Homo sapiens: one gene and its partner. The protein of the gene in region 1 purifies or fractionates together with the protein of each later gene. This does not show direct contact. Each region holds a gene or a part of one and is shown in the gene's direction. Other genes may lie near its edges.

The links.
Region 2: the proteins of AIRE (region 1) and GDPD3 purify together in Homo sapiens (affinity purification with mass spectrometry; 2 studies listed by BioGRID and IntAct, with this or other methods). This does not show direct contact.

The regions. Positions count from the first base shown.
Region 1 is NC_000021.9:44,288,860-44,292,508, forward strand, and holds part of AIRE (autoimmune regulator), read left to right. Parts: intron 1-797; coding exon 798-943; intron 944-1,128; coding exon 1,129-1,209; intron 1,210-2,235; coding exon 2,236-2,351; intron 2,352-3,442; coding exon 3,443-3,542; intron 3,543-3,649. UniProt on the Homo sapiens protein: Transcription factor playing an essential role to promote self-tolerance in the thymus by regulating the expression of a wide array of self-antigens that have the commonality of being tissue-restricted in their expression pattern in the periphery, called tissue restricted antigens (TRA).
Region 2 is NC_000016.10:30,107,319-30,110,581, reverse strand, and holds part of GDPD3 (lysophospholipase D GDPD3), read left to right. Parts: intron 1-2,149; coding exon 2,150-2,209; intron 2,210-2,317; coding exon 2,318-2,369; intron 2,370-3,263. UniProt on the Homo sapiens protein: Hydrolyzes lysoglycerophospholipids to produce lysophosphatidic acid (LPA) and the corresponding amines. Shows a preference for 1-O-alkyl-sn-glycero-3-phosphocholine (lyso-PAF), lysophosphatidylcholine (lyso-PC) and N-acylethanolamine lysophospholipids.

The DNA.
Region 1 (3,649 bases):
AGCCTGCAGCATCCTCGCCCGCCATTCCCTGGCCAGCCGCTGACCCCATGCAATCACCAGTGCCATCTGACCAGGGCACAGCAGGGCCGCTGGTGGCAGACCCACCGTGCCATCGGGGCATTCCATCTCAAGTCCCTGACACGGTGTCTCCTCGGTGCTGGACATGGGCTGGGAACACCAAGCACAGCCAGGGCCCTGGTCTTGCACCTCTGGATGGTCCCAAGGCCCACTGTGTTACTTCCTAAGGCTGTTGGTTAAATTGGCACAAACTGGGAGGCTTGAAATGACAGAAATGCCAACATCGAGGTGTCTCGGGGCCACACTCCCTCTGGAGGCTCCAGGGAAGAATCCTTCCTTGTGTCTCCCAGCTGCTGGTCATTATGGGGGTACCCCTGTGCTCCTTGTTCCTGGGCTCAGGACCCACCGCTCCAGCCTCTGCTTCTGTGGTCTCACAGCTGTCTCCCACGTGTCCTCTTTATAAGGACACCAGTCATTGAACTTATGGTCCAGTGTGACCTCATCTTAACTAATCACATCTACAAAGACCCTGATTTCAAGTAAGGTCACACTCTGAGGTTCTGGGTGGACGTGAACTTCGGGGGACGCTGTTGAACACCCTGGTGTAGATCCAGGACAATCCCCGGGCCCCAGACTCGACTGGGGTGGGGGCGGGCTGGAGGAATGCAGGCTGTGGGAACTCCACCTGTCTCTGCTAGACCCCACCCTGGGGCCTACACGACTGCCAAGGCAGGTCCTGCTGGGCGGGTGAGCCAGGACCAGCCGGCATCTCCTCCCAGGCGGCTCCAAGAAGTGCATCCAGGTTGGCGGGGAGTTCTACACTCCCAGCAAGTTCGAAGACTCCGGCAGTGGGAAGAACAAGGCCCGCAGCAGCAGTGGCCCGAAGCCTCTGGTTCGAGCCAAGGGAGCCCAGGGCGCTGCCCCCGTAAGCACCTGACCTTCCCTGGGGAGCCTGGCTCTTGATGCCCCCCGCCCCAGGAACAGCGTTGCCTCTGGGGGAGTGGCTCTGCTGGGGGCTGGGGGCTGCTGCCGAGAGACGCCTGGTGCCACAGCCATGTGCACCCTCGCTGCTGAGGCTGCCCCCATTGCTGACGCCCCTCTTCCTTGCAGGGTGGAGGTGAGGCTAGGCTGGGCCAGCAGGGCAGCGTTCCCGCCCCTCTGGCCCTCCCCAGTGACCCCCAGCTCCACCAGGTAATGCCCTAGACCACAGGAGAGGCCCCTGTCTGCCCTTGCTCCCCTCGGGTGGGTCCTGCTGCCTCTGCCTTTACCTGGGCACTCAGGGATGAGCACCGGGGCCTGAGCCCCTACCCACAGGGTACAGCTCTTTTTCTTTAATAGACAGTATTTTTTTCCTGATAATACGCAATGGTAATAGTTTAAATGAGTCAGAGAAAGTGAGGTCTTCTCAGGCTCTTAAGAGCATGGCGTTTGGTCCAGGCTGTACCCGCTGCTCTCAGCTGGGCCCGTGGGTGGGCCGGGCGCCCCTGCTATAGCCAGGAGGTCAAGGATCCACTGGGAATGCCATGCTCATCTTTCGTCCCCAGCATGGTTTCTTAATGGGGTAGAAGCAGTGTGGGGGGTGCCTGCCGTGGTGGGTTACAGATCTTGACCACTTGGCACCAGGGGCTCTGTGGGGCCCTGGCACTTAGCAGTGACAGGAGCCAGTCCTGCCCTGCAGGAGCACCCGGGCTGGTGGGCGTCTGGGGGATTGTTAGAATGAGTGAGGTCATTGCCGTGCAGGACCAGCCTAGCCTGGCTGTCTGGGGGGATTCTGGAGGAAGTGGTACCTGGGAGACCCCTGAAGGCACAGCAGGCACCATCCAGGCAGGGCACAAGGACGGTGGGGGCTGCAGGTGGAGGATTCAGCAGGCGCTGAGGTCGGGAGAGACCTCCCTGGGCCTGGCCCCACTGCCCTGTGAGGAAGGGTTCATGTGGTTGGTGTACAGTTCCGGGGCCCCTGGAACGCAGCAGCCTGCAAGAAACCGGGTTTTCTTCCCAATAGGGATGGCCCCGGGGGGTGTCTGTTGGAGACCAGATGGATGGGGAACAGGTGGTCAGGGCAGAATTTCAGGCCCTGGCAGCATGGGAGCAGGGCAGAGACTGGGGAGTTCAGGTACCCAGAGATGCTGCTGGGGGAGCTGTTTTGGGAAGGAGGTGGCTCTCAGGAGGGTGCTGCACCCCAGCCCAGTCTGCATGGGCGTCTCTTGCCTGTGCCAGAAGAATGAGGACGAGTGTGCCGTGTGTCGGGACGGCGGGGAGCTCATCTGCTGTGACGGCTGCCCTCGGGCCTTCCACCTGGCCTGCCTGTCCCCTCCGCTCCGGGAGATCCCCAGGTGAGCCTGCACCTCTGCCAGCGCAACCAGGCCACCCCGGTTCACGGCCGCCTCCACCCACTGACCCTGAAGGGAAGCCACCCCAAGCCTCTCCCATCCAAGATGGAAAGGGGTTCTGAGTCAGGTCACTGGGCCGTGGGGCCGGGGCCTGGGGTTTTCCCACCCTGCCACCTGCCTCCCGGTCTGGCCACACCTGCTGCCCAGCCTGGACAGCTGGGCCCCTGAGGGCAGCAAAGCAGAACAGAGGCCCAGGGCGAAGATGCCACCCTGTCCAAGCTCATCCCAGGCTGCAGCCCACGCCCCCATGGGTAGCCGGCCCCCACCCCCAAGCCCCACCCCAGAGTCCCACTCCAGACAGGGCTGGGGAGCACAGAGGCCACAGAGCTGTGCCCCCCAGGGCAGGTGGGAGTTTGTCCACCAATGCACAGGACGCCGGGCTTAGTGGGGGCGGGAGGCCTCCTCTGCGTTCACATCCCGGTGCTCCTTCCCCACGGCCCACCGAGCCCTGCCCCCATTCCAACCCCACAGGACGTGGCAGTCTGTGGGAGGAAGAGCTCTGGGTGCAGTGGGGACCCACGTTCAGGCGAGGCTCTGCCCCAGCCCCTGAGTGGCCGTCATCAGGCCCCCTCTCAGCCTTGTGCCTCATCACTAGAATAAGGGGCACAGTGGGGGTCATTGCTCGGCTCCTGAAGCCGTTCCTCCTTGCCGTCTCTTTCTGCCCTTGATCACCTCCCCATTCTGCTGGGTGCCATTCCCCTTAACAGGTGGGTCAGTTTAGGGAGGCCCCCGGCAGGGCCCAGCCCTGAGAGGCAGGCAAAGCCACCAGGGCTCGCAGGTGTTGGGGATTCCTGGGGTTCATCAGAGAGCACGCCAAGGGGACCCTGATCACGCTGGCCAGGGCCACCCCACGAAGGGTAAATGTCCCCCTGCTGGGCTCTCCCTTCCTGTGTCTCTGCCCATCTCTCTGCTGTGCCTCGGTTCCCCCTCTGTGAAAAGACATGGTCGGAGCCCTGGAGCTCCACCCGTGGGTTTGGGGATCTGTCACCCGCTGTCTTGTTCTGCATGTCTCTGACTGGTGGACACACGAGCAGTGGGACCTGGAGGTGCTCCAGCTGCCTGCAGGCAACAGTCCAGGAGGTGCAGCCCCGGGCAGAGGAGCCCCGGCCCCAGGAGCCACCCGTGGAGACCCCGGTATGGCCACGCCCCCTCCTAGCCGGGCCACCCCTCCTGTCCACATGGCCACGCCCCCTCCTAGGCTGGGCCACCCCCTCCTGTCCGTCTGTCCCCTGGAGTCCTGT
Region 2 (3,263 bases), on another chromosome or scaffold:
CTTTCTGACAGCTTCTCTGTGGTAGTCCCAGAGCTCTCTGCTCCCCTCTGTTGTCCAGAAGGAAGTCCCACTCAGCCCCCACAATACCTTGCTACAAAGAGATCAATGATATTTGTGTACCACCTTTTTATACCGGATTTTTTTTGTGTTTTTTGAGGAGTCTTCCCCTGTTGCCCAGGCTGCAGTGCAGTGGCGTGATCTCGGCTCACTGCAAGCTCTGCCTCCCTGGTTCACGCCATTCTCCTGCTTCAGCCTCCCGAGTAGCTGGGACTACAGGCGCCCGCCACCACACCCGGCTAATTTTTTTGTGTTTTTAGTAGAGATGGGGTTTCACCGTATTAGCCAGGATGGTAATCTGACCTCATGATCCGCCTGCCTCGGCCTCCCAAAGTGCTGGGATTACAGGCGTGACCCACTGCGCCCGGCCTTATACAAGATTTATAAAGTGTTTTAACATATTTTGGGTTGACTTTTACCTTGCAGCACCCCCAGGAGGTATAAGAATCATGACTCCCATGGTACCCTAGAGAATCTGAGGCCCAGAGAGGTTCTGTAATTTGCCCAAGGACACACAGCTGGAAATCCAGAGCTTAGGTTTTCCCTGGGTCTGACTCCAGAGCCTGCCCTAGGACACTGTCAAGGGTCTCTAAAGTCACCCCTGGAGTGGGATAATTAGGGGTCGTCCCACTAAGTGCTGTCTGGTCTCAAGAAGCTGGCCAATGGGCACAGTGGCTCACGAGGTTTTTTGTGGGTTTTTTGTTTGTTTGTTTGTTTTTGAGACGGAGTTTTGCTCTTTTTGCCCAGGCTGGAGTGCAATGGTGCCATCTTGGCTCACCGCAACCTCCGCCTCCCAGATTCAAGCGATTCTCCTGCTTCAGCCTCCCAAGTAGCTGGCATTACAGGCATGCACCACCATCCTGGCTAATTTTGTATTTTTAGTAGACACAGGGTTTCTCCATGTTGGTCAGGGTGGTCTTGAACTCCGGACCTCAGGTGATCCACCCGCCTCGGCCTCCCAAAGTGTTGGGATTACAGGCGTGAACCACCGCGCCCGGCCATTGTTTTTTGTTTTTGAGAAGGAGTCTCACTCTGTGGCCCAGGCTGGAGTGCAGTAGTGCGATCTTGGCTCACTGAAACCTCCGCCTCCTGGGTTCAAGCAATTCTCCTGCCTCAGCCTCCCAAGTGGCTGGGACTACAGGGTCTGCCACCACGCCCGGCTAATTTTTGTATTTTTAGTAGAGACGGCGTTTCGCCATGTTGGCCACGCTGGTCTCCTCCCACCTCAGACTTTCAAAGTGCTGCGATTACAGGTGTGAGCCACCACACTTGGCTGGCTCGTGCTTATTATCCTGGCACTTTTGGGAGGCTGAAGCGGGAGGATTGCTTGAGTCCAGGAGTTCAAGACCAGCCTGGGCAACATAGTGAGACATGTCTCTACAAAAATTTTTTAATGGCCGGGCACGGTGGCTCACGCCTGTAATCCCAGCACTTTGGGAGGCCAAGGCGGGCGGATCACAAAGTCAGGAGATCGAGACCATCCTGGCTAACAGGGTGAAACCCTGTCTCTACTAAAAATACAAAAAATTAGCAGGCGTGGTGGCGGGCACCTGTAGTCCCAGCTACTCAAGAGGCTGAGGCAGGAGAATGGTGTGAACCCAGGAGGCGGAGCTTGCAGTGAGCTGTGATCGCACCACGGCACTCCAGCCTGGGCGACAGAGCAAGACTCTGTCTCAAAAAAAAAAAAATTAATTTAAATTAATAATAAGATAAATAGATAAATAAGAAGCTGGCCAGGCCCAACCAGGAGGGCCTGCAGCCTGGATGTCCAGCTTTGGAACCAAGCGAGGCCCTGGCCCAGCCCCACCACCACTCTGCTTTGGGTCTGGCAAGTCCCTTTCGTTCTCTAAGGCCCAGATTCCTTATCTGGTGAATGGTGACTGGAGGGCCACACCCTTGAAGCGTGGTGGTCAGAGTAGGCTCTCTGAACAATGGGTGAATTGTTCACTGGGGCAACTACAAAGGTTATTCTGGGGGATTCTGGGGGGTGGGAGGGCAGCGCTACCCTAGTTGGCGGGGGCACTACCAGCCCACCCCACCTCTGGGACAGGGGAGACCCTAGGAGCTAACCCCCACTTCCTTCTCTCTGCAGGACCTATTTCCCATTTTCCTGCTCTTGCCTGAACCAGTTATTGGCTGTGGTTTCGAAATGGTGAGGTGGGCAAGATGGCTGGGTGGCGTGTCCCCATAGAGACCTACTGCTGCCCTTCTCCCAGGTCCCCTCTCATCATCACCTCCCACGTCCCCACCCCACCCCCAGGCTGATCATGAGGAAGAGTCTGATCCGACACTTGGAGGAGCGAGGGGTGCAGGTGAGGCCGTGACCACCACTTCCACCGCACACAGACCTGGCAGCAGGGTTCCGGTCCCACTCTGCTGCCAACTAGCTGCATCACTCGGGCAGGTGACCTCACCTCAGTTTCTTCGTCCCTAAAATGGGAAAATGGTATATTTAACTCTCTGGATACACACACACACACACACGAACACACACAATTTTCTTCTTCTGTGTGTGTGTGTGTGTGTGTGTGTGTGTGTCAAGAGTCTCACTCTGTCACCCAGGCTGGAGTGCAGTGGTGCAATCTCGGCTCACTGCAACCTCCACCTCCCGGGTTCAAGCGATTCTCCTGCTTCAGCCTCCCCAGTAGCTGGGACTACAGGTGCCTGCCACCATGCTTGGCTAATTTTTGTGTTTTTAGTAGAGACGGGGTTGCACCATGTTGGCCAGGCTGGTCTCGAACTCCTGGCCTCAAGTGATCCACCTGCCTCAGCCTCCCAAAGTGCTGGGATTACAGGTGTGAGCCACCACGCCTGGCCACGCACATATTTTCTTAACCTGACATTGCCAACATATGGATATGTAACTAGTACTTATTAAGGGCTTGATAAATGTTAGCCATTATGATGACAACAATGATGTATCATGATCCCTGATGAGAGGGGGCTGGGGAAAGATGAGAGATGGGAGAAACCAGGCCCAGCCCACCCCCCTCTCCCCTGAGCATTGGCTTCCACCAGATCATTTAATTAGTAAACGATCCTTGAGAATGTTCCAGGCACTATGGTACTAGGGGTGGGAGCTTCCCATCAAGGGTACAGGGAAGAAATGCCATAGGCAGAGGCTGGGCACGGCTCCCACCTGTAATCCCAGCCCTTTGAGAGGCCAAGGTGGGAGGATCACTTGAGCCCAGGAGTTTAAGACCAGC